Homo sapiens: one gene and its partners. The protein of the gene in region 1 interacts with the protein of each later gene in a biochemical or structural test. Each region holds a gene or a part of one and is shown in the gene's direction. Other genes may lie near its edges.

Evidence for each region.
Region 2: the proteins of SLCO1C1 (region 1) and APBA2 interact in a test that uses a peptide from one of them, tested with the Homo sapiens proteins (one large-scale study listed by IntAct).
Region 3: the proteins of SLCO1C1 (region 1) and PATJ interact in a test that uses a peptide from one of them, tested with the Homo sapiens proteins (one large-scale study listed by IntAct).
Region 4: the proteins of SLCO1C1 (region 1) and ERBIN interact in a test that uses a peptide from one of them, tested with the Homo sapiens proteins (one large-scale study listed by IntAct).
Region 5: the proteins of SLCO1C1 (region 1) and PDZD2 interact in a test that uses a peptide from one of them, tested with the Homo sapiens proteins (one large-scale study listed by IntAct).
Region 6: the proteins of SLCO1C1 (region 1) and PARD3B interact in a test that uses a peptide from one of them, tested with the Homo sapiens proteins (one large-scale study listed by IntAct).
Region 7: the proteins of SLCO1C1 (region 1) and SNTG1 interact in a test that uses a peptide from one of them, tested with the Homo sapiens proteins (one large-scale study listed by IntAct).

The regions. Positions count from the first base shown.
Region 1 is NC_000012.12:20,722,832-20,726,331, forward strand, and holds part of SLCO1C1 (solute carrier organic anion transporter family member 1C1), read left to right. Parts: intron 1-258; coding exon 259-423; intron 424-3,500. UniProt on the Homo sapiens protein: Mediates the Na(+)-independent high affinity transport of organic anions such as the thyroid hormones L-thyroxine (T4), L-thyroxine sulfate (T4S), and 3,3',5'-triiodo-L-thyronine (reverse T3, rT3) at the plasma membrane.
Region 2 is NC_000015.10:29,112,974-29,115,894, forward strand, and holds part of APBA2 (amyloid-beta A4 precursor protein-binding family A member 2), read left to right. Parts: intron 1-902; coding exon 903-1,043; intron 1,044-2,921. UniProt on the Homo sapiens protein: Putative function in synaptic vesicle exocytosis by binding to STXBP1, an essential component of the synaptic vesicle exocytotic machinery. May modulate processing of the amyloid-beta precursor protein (APP) and hence formation of APP-beta.
Region 3 is NC_000001.11:62,116,480-62,119,979, forward strand, and holds part of PATJ (inaD-like protein), read left to right. Parts: intron 1-52; coding exon 53-200; intron 201-652; coding exon 653-739; intron 740-3,500.
Region 4 is NC_000005.10:66,052,075-66,055,574, forward strand, and holds part of ERBIN (erbin), read left to right. Parts: intron 1-1,331; coding exon 1,332-2,877; intron 2,878-2,984; coding exon of another isoform or gene 2,985-3,092; exon of another isoform or gene 3,093-3,500. UniProt on the Homo sapiens protein: Acts as an adapter for the receptor ERBB2, in epithelia. By binding the unphosphorylated 'Tyr-1248' of receptor ERBB2, it may contribute to stabilize this unphosphorylated state.
Region 5 is NC_000005.10:31,645,631-31,649,130, forward strand, and holds part of PDZD2 (PDZ domain-containing protein 2), read left to right. Parts: intron 1-3,500.
Region 6 is NC_000002.12:205,615,975-205,619,474, forward strand, and holds part of PARD3B (partitioning defective 3 homolog B), read left to right. Parts: 3' UTR 1-3,500. UniProt on the Homo sapiens protein: Putative adapter protein involved in asymmetrical cell division and cell polarization processes. May play a role in the formation of epithelial tight junctions.
Region 7 is NC_000008.11:50,701,907-50,705,406, forward strand, and holds part of SNTG1 (gamma-1-syntrophin), read left to right. Parts: intron 1-2,667; exon of another isoform or gene 2,668-2,693; coding exon 2,694-2,846; intron 2,847-3,500. UniProt on the Homo sapiens protein: Adapter protein that binds to and probably organizes the subcellular localization of a variety of proteins. May link various receptors to the actin cytoskeleton and the dystrophin glycoprotein complex.

The DNA.
Region 1 (3,500 bases):
TGACTCCTACCTTTAATATAATCTATACTGCATGTCTGTAGAAATGAGTGCCTATGTCTGGATTCGAACCTGGCCAGATCGCAGGCTTGACGCATGCCAGTGGCTTACTATATACATAGTGTATGTGTGTACCACACTGTGACTACTCCCAAACTGTGTGACAATGGGCCCCAGCCCTGTAAGTCCTGCCAGCACGGCTACTTCTTCTTCCATGCGTGACACCAACTTTAATTAGTCTATGTTATTTTTGTTTTACAGATTTTCTTCCATCACTGAAGAATCTTTTTGGAAACCCAGTATACTTCCTATATTTATGTACAAGCACTGTTCAGTTCAATTCTCTGTTCGGCATGGTGACGTACAAACCAAAGTACATTGAGCAGCAGTATGGACAGTCATCCTCCAGGGCCAACTTTGTGATCGGTATGCTCATCTGCCTTTCATGCTTTCTCAGAGGGACTGTCTTAGAGGTACCTGATTAACTCGGGAATCTTCGAGAAGATTCTTCCAAGATTTAGGTAATTTATGACATTTTAGATGAGCTCAAAAAGTAACAAGAATGTTGTAGCAAGAATTATTCACATCTGTGGGTAAGTAACCCAGAGAGCAAGCAGTTCTTGAAGTGATATCATAGAGATGAAACATGCATTTTATGAGGAGTTTGTTAATAATACTGGATATTTGTCTTTTAAGTGCAGCCGAAACCTCAAAACAGTGGCCATTTTACATGAACAGTTTCTAGGATTATATAAAATGCACAATGAGATAGGTTAAAAGATGTTCATTCCAAAACAAAACTTGTATTTTCGCGGTCAAAAAACTTTTCTGACTCCTGGCAACTGAGTTAGTTCAAAGGGTTGTGTTTCTAGCAACACAGTCAATAATAAGATAGAAAAGTATGAAGAAATGAAAGAAGAGAAACCAGAACTTACAAATACATGACCACCACTGTGGAAGCAACTAGATATTTTAAAAATCAAGATTCGTTTCTTTAATCCATGAACATGTCATTTAATGTTACTGTTTCAAGGCATAACATATTTGTTTCTTGGGACATATTCCTTTATGATAGGAGACTCCAGTGGTATAAAATAATTTTCTCTAGTATTGTAAAAATCAGTCTATATTTCTACCTCTGAAAGAGACCTGGAAGGAGAAAAAAACAGCCAAATGTATTTTAGGAGATATAATTTTTCTATGATAATCTTGGGTAATGGGCATATAGCACATGCTAATATAATTGACAGTTTTAAAAGATTTTTCTCCAAAATTCTTGATGTTAAGGTTACGTTACTGAACATTTTTACTTTTAACATCAATTGATTTAAATTAATTTTATTACTTATTGGCTGACCTAAAGAAATATTTTGTGGCTTTTTTCTCCAACACCCCATGCATGCTAATCAATGCTTTATATTGATTTTAACATGAATAGATGAGGATTTAAAGTTTAAGAGAGACTTTATTTTATTTCACTTTTATGTCTACATTGAGATATAACTTATCAACAGTTAAGTCTACAGACCTTAAACAGTTCAGATGGATAATTTTGATATATATAATGTGTGTGTGTGTGTGTGTATATATATATATATATATATATATATATATATATATATATGTGTGTGTGTGTGTGTGTGTGTGTGTCACATCCAGCATCCAGAACATACAGAATATTTTAGTTCCCCAGAAAGCTTAACTCTCCTATCAGTCAAAACTTTTCCCCAAAGCTAATAACTATACTAAACTATATTATCATAGACCAGCCTTGCCTGTTTTTGAACTTCATATAAATTAAATAGTATATTATATACTCTTTTGTGTCTAGCTTTTTTCAACTGAAGTGAAATCTATGAGATTATTTTATATTGTGCATAGCAGTGGTACATTCTTTTTCATGCTATGTCATATCTTATTACATAAATAAACCACAGTTTATTCATTTTATAGTTCATGGACATTTGTGTTGTTTTCTGCTTTCAACTAATAGTTATTTATAATACTATAATAGATAATATAATAATATATATTATAAATATATAATTTCATATACTATGAAAATAATTATACATACAATTATTTATAATAGCATTATAAATCATTATGTATTTATATGTATATTTATAGGTAATATTATAAATTTATGATAGTATAAATAATTACATTATAAAACATATATTTAAAATATCTAACATATATTAATATGTATATAATATGTATTAATTATATATTATATATATTATAATAAATTATATAAAATAATATATACAACATGATATATAACTATCATATATAATATATAAAATACTTTTTATATTAATAATTTTTATAATTATTATTTATATTATAAATCATATAATTATTTATAATAGTATTTTAAATAATTATAGTTAAAGAAAGAAAAAATACAAATAAAAATATGTATTTTAATATGTATTAATATAATATATATTATATTATTTATAATATATTATAGCATATTACACTATAAGATAGTATTATATGCTATATTAAAATTTATAGTATATTACATATAGTACAGATAATATAGTATAATATATGATATATGGTAATACTATAATAATATAGTAACATCTGGTATTATATATAGTATATTATGTATACTATAATATATAATAATAATGCTATTATAAAATTATTTATAATAGTTAAAAGCAGAAAACAACATTCCACATGTACATTGGTGGGCCACTATGCTCATTTTTCATGGTTATACCCTGGAGTGCAATGGACATTTGTGTTGTTTTCTTTTAACTAATAGTTATTTATAATACTATAATAGATAATATAATAATATATATTATATTATACTGCTAAGTGCAGTTGCTAAGTCAGAGGGAGAATATGTGTTTAAATAGAGTAGATATTGCCAAAACACACGGAAGTTGTGCAAATTTATACTCCTATTAGAAACGTAAGAGCATTCCAGTTGCCCCACATGCTTATCAACACTTGGAATTGTCAATTCTTTTCACTGTAACCATTCTTATGCGGTATGGTTGTGGTATTTCATGGTGGTTTAATTTGCATTTACCTAAAACTCTATTCTTCAAAGTTTCTGACATGTCATATCTACAGATAATTCAAATACTTTTGTGAGAGATAAGTAATAGTATCTAACAATTTTACATCGTTATAGCTAGGATTGTTCCTGAGATCATATTGGTTTCACATTAGTAAGTATGGGGTGCAGCCGACTAAGCGTAAGTGGGCCAATTATTCAATATCCTCTCACCCTTACTTTGATTATTTGTACGATGGTGAAAATAAATATATCACTAGGTTGAAATAAAGATGAAAGTATACAGATAAAATGCATAGTAAATGCGTATATCTGTCGTTCAATAAATATTATTTCTCTCTTTCTTTTCTTCTTCTATTCAACCTCTCTTTTTCTTATTTTTTTTTTTTAACTTGGGCTATGGGATAATGATCTTCCTGCAATAAAATATGAGATAGATACAAAGAAGCACATTTCC
Region 2 (2,921 bases), on another chromosome or scaffold:
TGTTTCATGCAGCATAGTGTCCCCGAGGTCTGTCCGTGTTGTAGCACACTTCAGACTCTCCCTCCTCTCCAGGGCTGAGTACTGTTTCCCTGCAGGCCTAGAGCACATTCTGTTTCTCCGCTAGTCCGTGCTGTCACCCTCGGCTGTTGTGAACACTGCTGCTGTGAACACGGGTGTGCACGGCGCCTGTTTTCCATTCTGTCCAGTCTCGTGGTCACAGGCGCTCCCAGGCCCTCCTGTCCATCTGTTTGGCGTCACTTTTAGGCTGGAATGGAAGCCCCCACCGCTGCACTCCAGCCTGGGTGACAGAATGAGACCCTGTCTCCAACAAAACCAGAACCAGTATATTTGGCACAAAATGCCCTTACGTCACTTGGCGGGGGGGGGATGTAGGAATAAAGTGACTCTTCCCTGTCGATGTAGACCATTTGGGCATCCGGCAAACAGAGCCTTCCCTTGACAGAACAGATGCCCCACCTTTCTGGTGGCCAGGGGACAGGCTGCCTCTCCTTTCCCGCCCGCCCATCAGCTAAGTGCCTGTCTTCCAGGATGGTAACCAGGCTGTGCCGTAGGAGGCCAGGTGGCAGTGGCCTTGGGCTGTGTCACCAGTCTCTAGCCTGACCACAAAGGGAGCGGCCCTGGGGGAGGTGCAGCTGGGGGACAGGTTCCACCGTGGGAGTCAGAAAACTTGGTGGTTCCCCACACACCATGGCATTAACTCTCTTGTTTTAAAGAAACATACTGCATATCATAAGGATCTCTGTCTGTGAGTCAGCGAATTGCACGTGCACGTATTCATCATGTGGCGCTTTTCCCTCTGCATGTCCCATCTTTGGGGACGTGGTGGAGCGCCTGTCGGGTGTGGCGGGAACACGTGTGCTGACCTGGCCATGTCTGCTTAGATCTGCAGCCTCATGAGAGGGGGCATTGCTGAGCGAGGGGGCGTCCGTGTGGGCCACCGCATCATCGAGATCAACGGGCAGAGCGTGGTGGCCACAGCCCACGAGAAGATAGTCCAAGCTCTGTCCAACTCGGTCGGAGAGGTAAGGAGGGACTTTGAGTGTGCCTCTGCATGCCGGTTCCCACGTGCTCCCGCCTGCCCTCCATGAGCCTCCCCCGCTCCAGAGGACACAGGGCATCTGAAGGTCAGCCAGGCTGTGTCTCCCATCGGGGCTGCTGTGACAAGGGTGAATGGAGCGGCAGGTGATGCGGAGCCATCCCGGTCTGGCTCTAACTGAGCAACCGGGAGGGCACAGGCTGCTGGGGGTGCTCCCTGGACACTACTTTTGGGACTGGACCTGTATGTCCAGTTCAGAAGCTCTGCAGGGCACACAGCTCTGGCCACCCTGGCAGGCTTGCCTCTCTGCCCTTGCTGGCCATCCCCTCCCACAGCCAGGCTGCTTGCCCTGTCCCACTTCACTGGCTGAACCCCCCACAGTCCAGTTCTTTCTGGCATCGCTTCCACGGCAGTGTGAGGATGGTGTGGGGGAGGTGCAGGTTTTCCTCCAGAGCTCACAAGGAGGCAGGATCATTGGGAGGGGGGATGGTGCTGGGGAGGTGGCACATACACCGGGGGAGGCCTGGCCAGTGCGCAGCGGGTGTGCGTGTGTGTGTGTGTGTAGTGTGAGCGAGTGTGGGTGTGTGCATGTGGATGTGTGAGAGCATGGGTGTGTGTGGGATGTGATGTATGAGTGTGGGTAAGTGTGGGTAGGTGTGGGAAATGAGTGTGTGCGTGCACGTGGGTGTATAGGGGTGCATGAGTGGATGGGTGTGGGTGTGTGGCTGTGTGAATGTACCTGAGTGTGCGTGTGGAGGAGTGTGTGTGTGTGGGTGAGTGTATGCGGATGTACGTGTGTGTGTGAGAGCATGGGGTGTGTAGGAGTGCGAGTGTGGGTGTGTGCAGGGGTGTGTGGCTGTGGGTGTGTGTGAGCATGGGGTGTCAAGCATGAGTGTGTATGTGTGCACGGCTGTGGCTGTGGGTCTGTGAGTGGGTGTGAGGCATGGGGTGTGAGGAGAGTGTGAGTGGGTGTGTCTGTGTGTGTGTAGGGGTGTGTGAAGGGGTGTTCAGCACAAAGGGGCTGCAGGCTCTCTGGGAAGCGTGGTGGCCGCACGAGGCGGGAGGCTGAGAGCTGAGGAGCCCGGCCTACAGAGGGGCCCGCTGGGGACCGGGCAGGGAATTTGGGTCTGGGGACAGCAGCAGCAGGCCGGGCCGTCTGTGGTGCTCCCCCTGGTGGCTCTGTGAGGCTGAGTGCGTGGCGACCATCCTTGCAGCCTGTGGGTGGGCGGGTGGGTGGAGGGGTCTCTAGTTCCTGTTCTTCGGATGAGGTCTCCAGGAGCCACATCGGGACACTGGTATTTTGTGCACTGCAGGGTCGGCTGGGAGCTGGGAGGCCTGTTTTCCCTGGACTGGTGGGGGCAGGGGTCTGGCTCAGGAGGAGGAGGGGCCAGGCGGACACCAGCCTCCCTTTGATGGCTTCAAAGAAAGGAAAAGCCAGTGTTCCCAAGTAGATGCTTTGAAGCGGCCGCCCCCACGGCCAGCAGCCCCACACCTGTGAGGAAATCCACCCGTGGAGGAGCGGGCGGGAGAACGGGGAAGAGGCAGGAGGCGGCCGGGGCGTTGGAATCCTTTCAGCCCTGCCGAGGTTATGGTGCCTGTTTCCAGCAGCTCTGAGCCCACGCGGAACATGAGTCGCTGATAAACAAGGCTTGCAGTTGCGAGGGGCCTCGGGGTGGGTTTCTGGTTGAGGAACGCCGGGGAATGGCTGATGGAGGAAGCCCCTGCCGGGAGCAGGAGCAGCGGAAACCTACATCGGCCACACAGATCCCGGCGGGGGAGGGAGGGCAACGCTCAGAAGCAGAGCTGCGCGATGTGCCTTTCTGGGCTGCTCAGCCCAGGGCCCGAGACCTGCTTGCCTGAGGAG
Region 3 (3,500 bases), on another chromosome or scaffold:
GCATGGAAATATTAGGTTGTGCCAATACTGCACTGCTGTATGGTATTAACAGAAATGGAAGCGGAGTGTTTATTTCTGACATCGTGAAAGGCGGAGCCGCAGACCTGGATGGGAGATTGATTCAGGGAGATCAGATCTTATCTGTGAATGGGGAGGACATGAGAAATGCCTCACAGGAGACAGTGGCCACCATCCTCAAGGTGAGTTGCTAGGCTGCTTTTTACCCAGCTGGCACAACTGAAGTCCAGTGGGAACTGTTCCAGTCTAGCTTGATTATAAAATGGGTTGGATTTTATACTAACTCTAGTTTTTACTAGAAATTTAATCTCTGATTATTTTAAATGAGCCAGAATAGCTTTAAAAGAAAGTTCTGTTATATTGACTAACAGAATGAAAGGGAACCTGCTTTGGGATTTCACAAGCAAGTTTTTCATACTTGTGAGAATTCTAAGTATCCATCACTGTTCTTTAAATGCATTTGATGAGATGGGCCCTCCAGGAGCCACAGAATTCATCCTCCTCTCTCTAGGGCTATGCCTGTTGCTTTCATTACCCTTTTATAATTTGTGGCTGCAGGGAGAGGCTCTGTTAAGATATTTCAGAATATAAATGCTACTACTTTTCATTTCTGTTCTTTTCTTGCCTTTCCAAGTGTGCACAGGGACTTGTGCAGCTAGAGATTGGAAGACTCCGAGCTGGTTCCTGGACCTCCGCAAGGACGACATCACAGAACAGTCAGGTTGTCGATGGCTTCTCATCAGACTGACTCACTCTTCTGCCCCCACTGGGAGAAAGTTCCCCATTTAATAAATGGTTGTTTGGAAATAATATCTAATGTACAGCATATTCACAGCACCAAGTTTAGTGAACTTTCATGTGTTTGAAATAAAAATGAAAGGTGGGATGGAAATTCATTAATCCCTAGATTTTTCTCTCCTTTATTGCTTGCAAATGTTTTCTTGGAAGCTCTTTTCTCTCTATTAGTTCTATATTGCCTATGCACGCATGTACACAGCTGTGTTTATTTAAAAAAAAAAAAAGGCAACATCTGGTGGCAATTTGACCCTCATTAGCACAACATTGTTCTATTCATTCAATTAAATATTGCTATAAAGTTAACTTGTGACTAGCCACTCACACATGCCGAGGGCAATTAATGGCATATTCCTAGGAGAACCAAGTGTGGGGGTTTTTCCTGTGGGAGGGAGGGCTTAGTGGGTGATATTTTGTGGGTTAGCAAACATCTTATATTTATTTGCAAAGCTGATGTAAGTGCCATTTTTTTTTAGCAAAGTATATTTCACTATATTTTTTTCATTGTAATGGCTGACAAAATCAAGATGGTAGACTGTATGGTTAGCCCCATGTGGTACATAATGAGACTATAGAAACTTATATGTGACCCCTAAGTCTCCTCTCTGGGTTATGGATAGGCCGCCTTAGTTTTGAGGTTAAAAGCATGACTTTTGGTCCCCTCCCTGGTTGCCTTATTTCTGAAGCCTCTCCAAGGCCTTTGTTCAGAAGGTGCTCTGATCTTACAGTTAGCACACAGTTACTTCTGGAAAGCTATTAGCTGCCTCCTGTTCCTCACTGGTGTTAAAAAATGAGTGAGGAAAATACCATTGTTCAGATAGGATTACAGACTAGCTGGCTTGTCTTAGGGAATCTTCAAAGCAGTCAAACCCAATAAACACCATATTAAGTTTGAAACACTTTTTTTTTTTTTCATTTCTGGCTTACATAATGGGCAGCAAATATCTAAGACATGGTGCTGCTGTAGGATTCCATGAGTTAATAGTTAGTGATGATATTGACCAGACTTATATCAACAAACGAAACAGTTGTCTAGCCAGGCTTCTTCCTTAATGGAAGACTCATCTTTGTTGAATGATTTCATTAAAGCCTTATTGTATACAGAAGATTAGAATGAAGCTACACAGAGGAGGTTCCATTGAATCTCACTCCAAATGGAGTTTGGGGAAAAGAAGGAAAAGGCATCTCAGACAGGGAAAATAGCATACACAAAGGCACAAAGAGGTAACAGGTGTTTGTGTGATTTAAGAAAAGTTTGGACTGATCGATAGGTAAGGTAGTGGATAGAAATGGATTTCTGTCCCTCTTGAGAGATGTATGTGAGCATCTTCTTATTTATTTATTTATTTATTTTTGAGACGGAGTCCCACTCTGTTGCCCAGGTTGGAGTGCAATGGCGCGATCTCAGCTCACTGTAATCTTCGCCTCCCGGGTTCAAGTGAGTCTCCTGCCTCAGCCTCTCGAGTAGCTGGGACTACAGGTGCCCGCCACCACATCCGGCTAATTTTTGTATTTTTAGTAGACACGGGGTTTCAAAACATCTTGGTCAGGCTGGTCTCAAACTCCTGATCTCAGGTGATCCACCCACCTCGGCCTCCCAAAGTGCCTGGATGACAGGTGTGAGCCCCCGCGCCCAGCCGCATCTTCATAATTTTTAAGTTCACACTCAAAGACAGAACTACCAAATTTAGAAGCTACATCATTAAATATCAAAAAAAAAAAAAACCTATCGTCTCCACTTACCTGGTATATGAATGTGAGTTGTCATATTTTGGAAACCTGGGACAAAGTATCAAATACTTTGCCCTAATCTTCTTACACAGAATTTTAATTTCAGAGGGTAGGAGTTTAATTCAATTTTTAAAAACAGTAAATATATCTTATCATCACCTTGTGCTTAAAATTATGGGTGAGATAGAAGAGTTTGCCCTATTTGGCTAATTAGAAGAAGGCTGGTAGCCGACTGTGAAAAGGAAATGTCTTCCCATCATGATGAGTTGAAGACTGACCCTGGTGGGCAAAAACAAGATTCCATTGCCAAACATTTTTACATCCAGACCCATTTAAAAAATCAGGATCTTGTAGGAACACAGATTTCCTTCTGAGCAGTTACAAAATAGGGAGATCAATGCCTTCTTTTGAGCGCTAAGGAGAATAAGCTCTTGACTTAATTCATAGAAAGTGAGTTCATTAAGAGAGAAATAACTTCTAGCTTTGGGGCCACCAAGTGTCTTTTTTTAAAATGACTTTCCCCCAAACCAGGAAGAAATTTCCTTACTCCACAGAGGAAAAAATACTTGCGAGATCTTTTCCTCAGCCAACTAAGGGAACACAGTCAGGCAAAGTGTACTTTTATAAACGTCTTGGGGCCGGGCGTGGTGGCTCACATCTGTAATCCCAGCACTGGGAGTTCGAGGCGGGCAGATCACTTGAGGGCAGGAATTCAAGACCAGCCTGGCCAAAGAGCCTGGTGAAACCCTGTCTCTACTAAAAATACAAAAATTAGCTGGGCATAGTGGTGGGCTCCTGTAACCCCAGCTACTCAGGAGGCTGAGGCAACAGAATCACTTGAACCTGGGAGGCGGAGGTTGCAGTGAGCTGAAATTGCACCACTGCACTACAGCCTGGGTGACAGAGGGAGACTCCTCAAAAATTACAATACAATGCAATAAAGGTCTTGGCAAACA
Region 4 (3,500 bases), on another chromosome or scaffold:
TAGTCCCAGCTACTCGAGAGGCCAAGGTGGGAGGTTAACTTGAGCTTGCGAGGTTTAGGCCTCAGTGAGTCATGATCAGGCTACTGCACTCCAGCATGGGTAACAGAATTGAGACCCGGTCTCAAAAAAAAAAAAAAAAAGATCGGGGTTACTACTAAACCAAAAGTTTAATGTGTGGATATTTTTAATAGTCATTTAGAGTTGTTCTTAAATTTCAGGCATATTTAAGTAAAATTTGTATATATTAATGCGTGTTGTTGGAAAAGGGAGGTGAATTTTATGCCTGAAAATGAGTTTAGGTACTGTGTAATTATAATCACAATCAATCATTTATTTCTATTCTTTGAATTTGAAGCTATGAGCTGCTGTTTAAAATACTAATTTTTATAACCTCCTAGATATTATCGTATTAATTTGTTGAATAATAAAATTTTATTTATTGTTGGGAAAGCGGTATGATATTTTCTAAATCCTGCTTTTAATATAATGAAATAAAGCCTAAGCAAGGAATACAGCAACACCTTTTTGTGCTGTATTTCTAGTAATGAAAGTTATCTTTTTTGTAATGGGAAGACCAGTATTAGGGAATTTTTGTGGAAACATAACTTGAATATGTATACAAGAGGACACAAATACTTAATATCACAGGTAGAAATAAAATATTTTGTATAATTTTGGAATGACACATTTAAAAGTATTTACCAAATACAGCTAGCTACTTAGAAGAGTGATTAGACTTCATTTATCTTTCTATGCCTTTTACATATTTGATGTTAAACTTTGGACAATTATTCAGTTCTTTGCTTTGTACAATTTTCTTACCTATATATTTGAATGTAATAACAACTGTGTACTTCGTTAACTATGGTTAATTTGGTTAATAATGTAAGGCTTCAAAATTAACTGTAAAAATGTCCTTTGCTCTTTACTCCACTATTCATGTTACTAGGTTTCTCTCCATATATCTGCCCTCCCTCAAGCATTTTGTTTTTTTAGCACATTCATGAAAAGATGCAGCAAACATTAAAATTTTATTCATAGTTCAGCCCTTTAAATTATTTTGTGACAAATCAGATTGAGTGTATTGATGAAAATTAATCTTGGTATTATCTATGAATTTTAATTGTATTACTTGTCTCCAACTGAATATAAAGCTCTTTTAACTATTAAGATAATATTTTAAAATTACATGCTTGATAATAAATGCCTTTTGTCTTTGACTTTTATTAACTTTTTTAACTTGTCTACCTACACAATTTATTTATTAATGTTCCCTGTTACTAAGAAAACTCGGCTTTATTATGTTTTTCATAAAATTATCTTTATTTTAGGCAAGAAGATGAAAATTTTAACAGCCTTTTACAAAATGGAGATATTTTAAACAGTTCAACAGAGGAAAAGTTCAAAGCTCATGATAAAAAAGATTTTAACTTACCTGAATATGATTTGAATGTTGAAGAGCGATTAGTTCTAATTGAGAAAAGTGTTGACTCAACAGCCACAGCTGATGACACTCACAAATTAGATCATATCAATATGAATCTTAATAAACTTATAACTAATGATACATTTCAACCAGAGATCATGGAAAGATCAAAAACACAGGATATTGTGCTTGGAACAAGCTTTTTAAGCATTAATTCTAAAGAGGAAACTGAGCACTTGGAAAATGGAAACAAGTATCCTAATTTGGAATCCGTAAATAAGGTAAATGGACATTCTGAGGAAACTTCCCAGTCTCCTAATAGGACTGAACCACATGACAGTGATTGTTCTGTTGACTTAGGTATTTCCAAAAGCACTGAAGATCTCTCCCCTCAGAAAAGTGGTCCAGTTGGATCTGTTGTGAAATCTCATAGCATAACTAATATGGAGATTGGAGGGCTAAAAATCTATGATATTCTTAGTGATAATGGACCTCAGCAGCCAAGTACAACCGTTAAAATCACATCTGCTGTTGATGGAAAAAATATAGTCAGGAGCAAGTCTGCCACACTGTTGTATGATCAACCATTGCAGGTATTTACTGGTTCTTCCTCATCTTCTGATTTAATATCAGGAACAAAGGCAATTTTCAAGTTTGATTCAAATCATAATCCCGAAGAGCCAAATATAATAAGAGGCCCCACAAGTGGCCCACAATCTGCACCTCAAATATATGGTCCTCCACAGTATAATATCCAATACAGTAGCAGTGCTGCAGTCAAAGACACTTTGTGGCACTCCAAACAAAATCCCCAAATAGACCATGCCAGTTTTCCTCCTCAGCTCCTTCCTAGATCAGAGAGCACAGAAAATCAAAGTTATGCTAAACATTCTGCCAATATGAATTTCTCTAATCATAACAATGTTCGAGCTAATACTGCATACCATTTACATCAGAGACTTGGCCCAGCAAGACATGGGGAAATGTGGGCCATCTCACCAAACGACCGACTTATTCCTGCAGTAACTCGAAGTACAATCCAGCGACAAAGTAGTGTGTCCTCCACAGCCTCTGTAAATCTTGGTGATCCAGGCTCTACAAGGCGGGCTCAGATTCCTGAAGGAGATTATTTATCATACAGAGAGTTCCACTCAGCGGGAAGAACTCCTCCAATGATGCCAGGATCACAGAGACCCCTTTCTGCACGAACATACAGCATAGATGGTCCAAATGCATCAAGACCTCAGAGTGCTCGACCCTCTATTAATGAAATACCAGAGAGAACTATGTCAGTTAGTGATTTCAATTATTCACGGACTAGTCCTTCAAAAAGACCAAATGCAAGGGTTGGTTCTGAGCATTCTTTATTAGATCCTCCAGGAAAAAGTAAAGTTCCTCGTGACTGGAGAGAACAAGTACTTCGACATATTGAAGCCAAAAAGTTAGAAAAGGTAATTGAACATGAGTTTTTCATTATTTTCTTTATGAACTTAATTATTTTCCTTAAAAATGATGAAACAAGATTCTCTGAATTACTGATTATCTCTTTATATTCTAGGTGTTTTTCTCTGGTACTGGGAATAGAGTTCCAAATTTAAACTCAGCCAGGACAATTGGGATGATAATGTGTGTTTCTATCCTCTCCTTCACTCCCCACTGTTTCTAACAAAAATGTATTAATTTTATATGTTTATGTGTCTGTCTCTTTGAGATTGTGCACACATACTAAAAATACACGTACCTCTGTTCAGCATTTTCTGAACTTTGCTATTAATAATTGTTGATTATCTAAATTTAAAAAATAGTTTACTATATAGTTAAGACAATAACAAAAAATGTATTGCAAATGTAAATATTTCATCTAATATTTTTTCCCCAGTCCACAGTATATGAACTAACATTGTCACTGACACAGATGGCTTCTGGCATGGCATTTATTCTTAACTTTTCTGAATTTCTACATTTCTGACCTACTTAAACTCAGTTAAGTGTTTCTGTGGCTCTAGTGTTGCTTAGCAATAGTTGATTAAATAACTAATGCTCGTGTTCAATTTATAATTTTATGTGTAGATGT
Region 5 (3,500 bases), on another chromosome or scaffold:
GGCTGGTCTCATTTTTACCAACACTTGGACACCTCTAGTACTTGGCTTTACAAGCCCTAGACTTTATCATCCAAGTTAACACAACAGACCCTGTTGTCCTGGCCTCAGGACAGCCATCATCCTGCTTGGCTAAAAATAAAGGCAGCACTCATATAGTGTAGAATTAGTATTCCTACCGTGAGCAGGGGCACGCTTTGTGCTGTGGCTACCCCAAAGTCAATTCCCTGGCTGGGACCTGCCAGCTCAGGCAGTGGGAGTTGTACTGGGAGGAGGGTGGGAGAGATGGTAAGTTTGGATCTCAGTGTACTCAGTAGGGGGAAGGGGGTGGGGAACTGGGCTGCCTTACATGGGAGGCCTCCGGGCATCCCCAGGCAGCTGGTGGGAGGAGAGAGGGTGTCAGGGAGCTTTGCACTGCGGGGGGGCCTTCTCACTACTGTCACTCCTAGGGAGATCTCAGGATACCTAGGCGGAAGAAAATAAACACCAACTCTTTTGTCCCTTTCACCAAAGGCCAGCATGTTTCCGATGCCTGTCTAAGGTGAACCTGGCTTGTCCTGTTTACACGTCCTGGGATGTTACTGTAATTCCAGTATTCCAGAAGACTCTGTTTCTGGAGACTGGAGAGGCAAGTGTATTTTGGGGTAGCCATAATATCTTGGGTTGGTGGGTACAAGTTTGAACACCTAGTAATGCCCCTTACCCCTGAGGAATTCCAGGGACTGAGCCACCACAAATGTCTTCAGGAACCTGACCCCTCCACGTCATGAACACTAAGTAGCTCCTGACACTGCTTATGTTTGCTTGCAGGTGATCAAATGGAATCATACACTCTCTCCAAGAGCACGAAGGTTTCTTTTTCTTTTTCTGTTTAATAAAGCAAGATGTCAATAAACTCTACATTTTTGTGTGTTGGCCAATGGACACTTATAAAATGTCTGATTTCAGCTGTGTTTTCAGTTGAACACCCCCCACCACCCGCCCAACACCCTCTTTCTGGCACAGTGTGTTTTATGGAGATTTGGGTAAAACTAGATTGTGCTATATGGGTCTCCTGATGAAGAGAATTCACTTCCAAGGCTAAAGCAGCCATGCAAATATTATTACAAAACCACTCAGCATACAAAATTGGCATAGCTTTCCTCCACAGTTTGCCACTGCCCACTCTCCACTCCTACCCCGCCCTGGCCACCTTAATTCCCAGTATCATTAGGCCGAAAGAAGGGACAGCTGTCTCCAGAAAATGTGCTCCGAGTGTCCCCATCAGCGTGGATTCCCAAGAGAGAGCAGGCAGTGAGATGGCACAAGGAGAGGAAGGTACTGGAAAGAATTGCATTAACTCCTCTCTGGACTTACTGCTCATCTTTAAAAACCTAAGCAGATGTCAGGCTTATTGATTTCTTTATTGGTGGCAGCTGTGGAGCTGCAGTCCACTATTTTTGGCACCTGGGAGATGCACACGGCCCCTGAGCACACTTCCCGCCTTCTGATCCCTCACCTGCTCAGCTTCCCAGGCTCCGTCTTTATCTTGAGGATCTCTGAAGACTGCCTCTTCCCCTGTACTCTTCAGGATCCAGTACAATGCCTAGTACATGGGTAAAAATTAAAATTATTTGAATGTTCACTATTTGGCAGGCACTGTTCTAGACACTTGCCACATACAGCTCATTCAGTTCTCATAATCTGATGAGGTACATACTGTTATTACCCCATATTCATTTCCTGGGGCTGCCGTCAGAAATTAGCACAAACTTGTTGTCTTAAAACAACTGAAATTTATCCTCTCACAGTATCCTCTTCACAGGTCCGAAGTCTGAAATCAAGGTGTTGACAGGGCCGTGCTCCTTCTGGAAGCTCTAGGGGAGAATCCTTCCCTGCCTCTTGCAGCTTCTGGGAGCTGTGGACATTCCTTGCACTGCTTCAGCCCAGTCTATGCCTTTGTCTTCACGTTGCTTTGTCTGTGTGTCTGTGTCTTCTCTCTTGTCTGCATGTCTCTACTTTGTGTGTCTCATTTATAAGGACATTTGTCATTGGAGTTAGGGCTACCCAAATAATTCAGGATGATTCCAACTTGAGATTTTTAATTTAATTACATCTGCAGAGACACTTTTGCCAAATGAGGACACATTTGCAGGTTTTGGGATGTGGGTATATCTTTTGGGGAGCTACTATTCAACACAGTACAACCCCTTTTGTGATGGAAAAATGGTGATACATTGTGGTTACGGAATTCTCTGAGGTTGCACAGCCAGGAGTTGGTAGAATTGGAATTTACACACAGCAGCCTGGCTCTAGAGCTTGCATATGGACCACTACTCTCTTTTGCCTTTTAGTAAATGTGCTCCGTGATTGTTCACGGTATGAATGGAGGGCAGCATGGCTGGGGAAATAGATGGATGAAAAGATGCTGGTAACAGTAGTTGGCCAACATTCTCCTTCTCAATGTACTGAAAATAGTAACAACAACTGATATTCATTGTTTTATGCTCTTGACCTGGGACTCGTCCTTGGATCCTCTTTTTTGGCTATTCTAGGGAGAGCTCAACTATCTCGAGGCATTGCCTACCATTTATGCACTTCTGCCTTCCAAATTTATGTCCATAGCCTTGATTTCTCTGCTGTGTTCCAGACTCATGTGCCCCACTGCCCCCTTACCATTCCAGTGGGGGCGTTATAGGGATCTCTAACCTAACACAACAAAATGCAATCCTTGATATGTCTCTTTCAAGCTAGTTCTTTCCTTCTCCTCCTCCCGTCTCAGTAAATGGCACCACCATCCACCCAAAGGCTCATTCCCAAAACTAGAAACCACTCTTCATTCTCTTTTCCCGACACTCTGTATCCAAATCCAGGAATAAGTCCTGTTGGCCCCACCTCCAGCCTCCACCTTGTTCTCCCGCCTCCACAGCAGCCGCCCTTGTTAAAATCACTGCCATCTCACCCCTGGACCCATGCTGCAGTCATCTTCTAACCGGGCCACCTGAGGACACCCTTGACCCCAGTCCTTTTCCTCCGAGCAGCCAGAGGGGTCTTTTATTTTTTTAAGACTTTTTTTTTTTTAATATAGCAATTTTAGGTTCACAGCCAAATTGAGAAGAAATTACAGAGATTTCCTGTATACCTCTTGCCCCTACACATGCAGAGCCTCCACTCTCATCAACATCCTTCACCACATAGTTCATTTGTTACAGTCGATGAACCTGTGTTGGAACATCGTTATCCCTCGAGTCCATAGTTTACCTTAGGGGTTCACTCTTACATTCTATGGGTTTGGATAAATGTATAATGTCATGGGTTTGGATAATGTGTAATGTCATGTATCCACCATTATATTATATGAGTAGTTTCACTGGCCTAAAAATCTTCTGTGCTCTGACTCCTATTCATCCCTCCTGCCCCCCAACCCAGAGGGGTTTTTTTGTTTGTTTTTTTAAGAGATGGGGTCTCACTGTGTCGTGCAGGCTGGTCTCAAACTCCTGGGCCCAAGCGGTCCACCCGCTTTG
Region 6 (3,500 bases), on another chromosome or scaffold:
AGAAGGGGAAGGGAATTGGGGAGGAAAAAAAATCAGAAGGAAGACGAAAGATGGGGCTATAAAAACAAAACTACCTGATAGTTGAAACGCTTTCAGAGTTGTTCAAATCAGTGAGAGTGGCAACGGAACACACAAACAACTAATTATGGAACTCTACTCTGGGGATCCTCTCTGGCTAGATAACCTGTGCTGATGTGCAGACACGTGGACATCCCCCTCTGAGACTGGCGGTCCAGAGGCAGTCTCTGCCAGGCAGCATTACCCGCTCCGAGGTGGAGCCTCAGCCCCCTTCTTAGAGCTGTTAAGTCTAAGGTGTGGCAGAGCAGACAGAGATAGAGGCATCTGAAGTGAGTATAGGTTTTTTGACTAAGAAAAAAAACAACAGCAAACATGACTAGTGATCTTGAAATATTTTGTACCGAGAGAAAGACTGCATTTATTTGTAGAATTTATCAGGTTTCTGATACCACTCATTGGATGTAAACATTTCATGTTTCCTCACTTTTGATATGAAAGTCGGTAAAATGCAGTATTAGTCCCGGGAGGATGTGCACAGCTGGTCAGAGCTTCCAGAAGGAATATCTTCCGAGGACTAAGGTGATCAGGTTAAGAGGGTTCAACATCCCACGGCCCTCACCTTCCTCCCTCCCACATTCCAGGCATGGAGATATCTGGTTTCAGAGTCAGCCCCAAATCTCCTGCCTATAATTACTTTAACTGGGGTCTCTAAGGTTCCCACTTGAGGGCTAAAATGTAGTTGGGAAAGAGGGCCTACTGGGGAGGTCTCACAGGAGGCAGTGCCCTGGGAAATGCCAAGTCCAGACTCAGTGCCAAGCAGTAACCATCTGCACTCGGGGACAGCGAGGAGCTGACCATGGCCTCTGATGACCAGCAGGTATTAGATGGAAGTGAATGAGAGAGAGAGAGAGAGAGAGTATGTGTGTGTGTGTGTATGTGTGTGTTCGAACACATATGATTGCCAGTATGGAGAATGAAAGATTAATAATGCTTTCTGGAGAGTTTGATGCAAAAGTGGGGGAAACGGAGAAAAGGCGCTAAGGCTAAATCCATCTGCATTTGCTATATTTCATTAGCTAAAGTCAGGTCAGGGCAGGGCCAAGGCCTCCAATTGGCAAAGGACAGTGTTATGGCTTTAAAAAGCTGAAACCCCAACCTCTAAGTAGATCACAATGTTTTCTGAGCTTTGCAGTAATTTTCTATGGAAACTAAAACCTCTAAAACATACAAGCTGGCCCAAATGAGAACACAAGCAAAAGATGTGGAAGACAGCAAAACCTGAGCACTGGTTTGAACCAGGCACTGACATTTGAAATGCTTTAAGCCTTTTCACATTCCTTCTTTATTCCCTCCAAAAAAAAAAGTCTTGAGTTTAATTTAGGTCTATTTTGGCTGAGATTAGCATACCTCTGACTCACAGGATTTAATAAATTATAGTATTATTGAATACATAGGACATCCCTCTACCCCAGCTTACTCTTATCTTTTTAATTTAAAATAGTATTCTGCTACCAAGAAGGATGCAACTGCTAGTTTTAGATGTAAATAGTGTTATTTACTGGACTTTGTGATATTATTTTCTTAACTACACTTTACTATGGCCCTGTTGAAAACAGACTATCAAGTTTTTTGTCTCTGTTCTGTCATCTCTCTTAAGCCAGGCACCTTTAGAGTGTTTGCAATTTGTTCGAAGTGGTTGAGGATCTCAGGCCCTGCTCACGTGAGGTGGAGTGCAGGGGAGCTACCGGTTTCCCTGCTGACCTGCTGAATGCTACCTTCCCCTCGAGTTGAATACACCTTAAGGAAAATGATAACACGAGGGACGTGTAACTTGTTTTGAAGCATTAAAAACCAGCAGCTCTTCACTATGTTCCATATTTTAACCAAACTACTGTAGACTACTAAACATAGCCAAGCCAGAACATTCCTTCTGGATTAAGCCTAGGCCACTTGAGGGGCAGCCAGGGGTGATGGTGTCAGGTGAGAATCCTGTGTCTTGAAGGAGTGGCCTTTACAGGAAGAGTGCCCATGTTTTCACCTGCAGCGTTGCCACCAGAGTGTGCAATACCTCCTGCACACAGGCTCAGGGTAAACTGCTCCAAAGCTGGGTTTTGTGTTGCATACAAAGTCAATAAAATAGTTGCTAATCCTGAATGGCAGCCAGTGATGTGAAGGTACTATTAAAGTGAACAAAAACTAGATTGCAACAGTTTTCTTTCCTTGCTTGAAGTATAACACACGCTCCATTTGATCCTGCCTGAAAGAAGCTAACATTATATTTGTGACAGACAGAGGCTCCATCAAGCCAAGCAACAATTAACAGCTCAAGTGTAAGATTTATAAATGCCCGTGTACTCACCCTTCAATTGTTACCACCCAGAGGTTACAGGACTCTTTCCCAGCATTTAGGGGAACAGGCTTTTAGAGTATTTAGAAGACCAGGCTATAATCAGTAATGTGCCTGGGAGCAGGAAATAGCTCCCAATTTATTTATGGCCTTGGGAAAACTCAATCCGGTGTCTCCTTGTAGCTCAGAACACTAATAGCCCCCCTGGAAGAGAGTGGCACATTGAGCTCCAAACCCAATCAACATACATCCACTTGGCTGCAGATCTGACTGCTGGGTCATGAAGGCCGTGAAATGATGTTTGCCCTCAAGTCACTAGATATTTTAAGAAGCCCTATTTTTCTCCCTTTTTGCAGGAGTAGAGAGATGAAAGAGGACAGACCATTGAAAACTTTTAGATGCAGGAGAATTGAGACTTCCACAAGGGAGAGAAACACAGCCTCCCCAGAATCCATTATGCCATCGGGTTGTGGCACTCTCACCCTTGCCATAATACCGTTTCCTAACAATATCAAATCAGTGGATGAAATACAAGCTCAGAAACAGGAACATTTTCCTAAATCATAACCTAATAGCAAACAAAAATTGAAAAAACAATTATTCTGAAGCTCATTATTCTTAGATCTGTAGATATATATGTGTTGACTCCCACAGGATGGCACCAAGTAAAGATCTTAAGAGCATAGTAGGGGTTCTGAGACCGACTGTCACCCGTGGATCCTGATGGGGAAGAACAGAGGCTTCACTGTAGCTATAGTTTTCCACCAAGTCAATCAAATTAAAACATGACTCATTGTCCCCTCCAAAGATTCATAAAATTCTTGAGCTAAAGTGATCTTCTGAAGAAAAGCCACCTAACAATGTTAGGAGGCTCATAAAGCTCATTTCTCTTTTCCCTGGTATGCACAAATATCAAGCCTATAAAAAAGTAATTATTTCCCCAAACCTGTAACCACTGCATTCGTTTTCTTTGGAGGAACATTGTAGCATTTCAGGAGGGTCGAGAGATCTAAAGAGTTTGGTCTGAATGTGTGTCTGTACAATTCCCTTTGGCATTAAACTCTGAAACCTACAATCAATGGCCTTCAAATTGGTGTTAAATTGGGAGAACACCCTACTGCTTTCTGAGTCTACG
Region 7 (3,500 bases), on another chromosome or scaffold:
GTGGCACAGTCTTGGCTCACTGCAACCTCCTCATCCTAGGTTCAAGTGATTCTCCTGCCTCAGACTCCCACGTAGCTGGAATTACAGGGATGCACCACCATGTCCGGCTAATTTTTGTATTTTTATTAGAAATGGGGTTTCACCATGTGGGACAGTCTGGTCTGGAACTCCCCAACCTCAAGTGATCTGCCCACCTCGGCCTCCCAAATTGCTGGGATTACTGACATGAGCCACTGCGCCCAGCCTCTTATTTTTTTTATAATGGCATTTACAATAATTTGTACTAATATATTTACTTGTGTAGTTATTATCTCTCATTGTTCCCTCCATAGATATTATAACCCCAAAACTACTAAAAAGTATTTATAATTTATCATTAGATTGTACTCTCAAACATATTATGTTTTCATTTTTTTCTCCCTTCAGACAGAGTAGGAAAATCAATAAGCACAGCATTTATCATCCTTTTAGCTTTCTGAGCATCTACTGGCAGCAAGGGTCAGAGCTAAATTCTACAACCCTGGAAGTAAATGCCTTCCATTAGCTCTCTTCCAGCAATTATAAGAATGCAAGCAGGAAACAATGAAAATAGTTATTATTTTTTAAACATTTGCCAAAGCAGAGAATTCCATCTAACATTTTGGGTGTTTAATAATGATACACTTACATCCCTCCTTATGAGAAATGATTACAGATACCAGTGATTAACCCTTTGACAATTTTCAGTACACTGCATAGATATAGCATATATACAGTCATTTAATAACTGAGATATATTTCAGGAAATGCCTCTCAGTTAGATGGTTCCACTGTTGTACAAACACCACAGAATTTGCTTGCACAACCTGAGACAGCATAACGTACTGCACAGCGAGGTTATACAGTACAGCCTATTTCTCCTAGGTTACACACCTGTATAGCATATGACTGTATTGAATACTGTAGGCAAAAGTAACATAATGGTAAGTAGTTGTTTAAACACATCTACACATAGAAAAAGTAAAGTAAAAGTACAGTCTAAAAGATTTAAAAAAAAAATGATACACAGATACAGGGCACTTACCATGAATGGAGTTTGCAGAATGGTAGTTGCTCTGGGTGAGTCAATGAATGAGTGATGAGTAAATGTGAAGGCCTAGGATGTTACTATACAGCACTATAGACTTTATAAATACTGAGCACTTAGACTACACTACATTTATAAGAAGTATTTTTTTCTGCAATAATAAACTAAGCTTAGCTTACTGTAACATTTTTTACTTTACAAAGTTAATTTTTTCAACTTTGGCCTTTTTTGTAGAAGTGCTTAGCTTAAAACACAAACACATTATGTAGCTGTACAAAATTATTCTATATCCTTATTCTCTACATTTTTTTTCTACTTTTAAATTTACAAATTACTTTTTTATTTTTGGCTTTTTAAAATTTTTATAAAAAATAAGACAGAAACACACACATTAACCTTGGCCTGCATATAGTCAGGATGAGTTCCATCATCACATCTTGTCCCACTGGAAGGTCTTCAGGGGCAATAACACGCATGGAGCTGTCATCTCTTATGATAATGATGCCGTCTTCTGGATACCTTCTGAAGGAACTGCTTGAGCCTGTTTTATAGTTAACTATATTTTTAATAAATAGAAGGAGTACACTAAAAAAATAGGAGTACAGTAAATACAGTAATATTTACTGTATTACTATAATACAGTAAATACATAAACCAGTAACATATTCTTTCTTATCATCATTATTATTATGTAGCATACATCATAATCGTATGTGCTAGACTTACACAGCTGTCAGCACAGCAGGTTTGTTTACACCAGCATGACCACAAACACAAGAGTAATGCATTGCTCTATGACATTACAACGGCTATGACATTGCTAGGGGATAGGAATTTTTCAGCTCCCTTATAACCTTATAGGATCACCGTCGCATATGCAGTTCATCATTAACCCAAACATCCTTATGCGGCACATGACTGTATTTAAAATGCTATATCTGACATGTTGCATTGGGTTACTCTGTTTCATAAATTATTTGCTTCACTTTTTTTTCTCATGTTAATGTCTCTTAAATTGGAATATATGTAAATTTGTGAACACTTCAGTTGAAAACTTCTGGTAAGACCAAGAAATTGCCAGCATCAAAGTCGTTTTTTTGATACAATGAAATACAGTTACACAAGTAAGGTAAATAATGCGTTTTTTTTTAAGCAATATTATTGCTGTAGACAAATTAGACTCATTTTCTTTTTCATTTCTCATGGAGAAGAATATTTTGGTTTGCTTATAAAGTTCCTTAAAATTTACAAACATGTTCACAAGCATTATTTAATTTCAACATCATAACAGTTATGTAAGGAAGGGAAGAGATAGTGTGTCACCCCTTTGTAGAGTAATAAACCAAGTCTTGTATGTTAAATGCTTTGGTGGTTATATTGTTAGTAAGAGATGAAGCCAGAAACCCTAACTTCTATTTTATGGACATGCTTCAGTGTAAAGACAGAGAAGTCATGTGTTGGGGCTTTGAAGCCCGGAGTTCTGGTATAATGTCTAATGAAGACTTGGTGAATTCGCAGAGTGTTGTCTTTTTACCTGTGGCTTCTGCACCTTGGTCCAGTCAGGAATGGCCAGGTTAGCAATGTGAAGTGATGTGTGCCAGCCTGTGTAACTCCAGGTTTTCACCAGGACAGTGACCTGCTGGACCGACGGAAACAGTGCTTCACCGTGCAGTCTGAGTCTGGGGAGGACCTGTACTTCTCAGTGGAGCTGGAAAGTGACCTCGCCCAGTGGGAAAGAGCCTTCCAGACAGCAACCTTTCTAGAAGTAGAACGGATACAGGTGAGAGTCTGTGGGACTGCAGGATGTGTGGCTCCCTCAGATGCATGACCACTTCCCTAGAGTTCTAATATCATTCCAAAGTAGTGTAAAAATACAGTTCTGGGAATCTTGACCTCATATACATTCTATAATTAGCCATTTTTGTTTAGTGACTAGTAATACAGCTCTGAATAAAATTTTAATTTTTCCACGACTTGATCTTTCCAGGCTATTTCCTACTACTAATTAAAAATATATTTCTAATTTTAATTAGACATTACTCTGACTTAAATCTAATATAGAAAATACTCTGATTTAATGAATTGTTGACAAGGTCACTTCCTGTTCTCCAAATATGACCTCCTAATTTCCAGCCTGTTGGCGTCATTTACTCACAATGCTCTTTCCCTTTGCCTCCATCCTTCAAAGCCACACAGAGTTTTTGAGACTTTTTATCAAAGGTCATATCATCCAGGAACATGTCCCTGATTTCCAGTCCACCCTGCCTAATGCTTGCCAATACTCCTTCTACAACTATCCTGTTCAAACAACTCTTCTTCTCACTTTTGAACACAATATAATGTACTTTTCTGGTTTTTTTACAGATAAGAAAACACAAACTAATCAATTGTATTCATACTACTCATGAAAAGCAATTACATTTTTACATGAAGT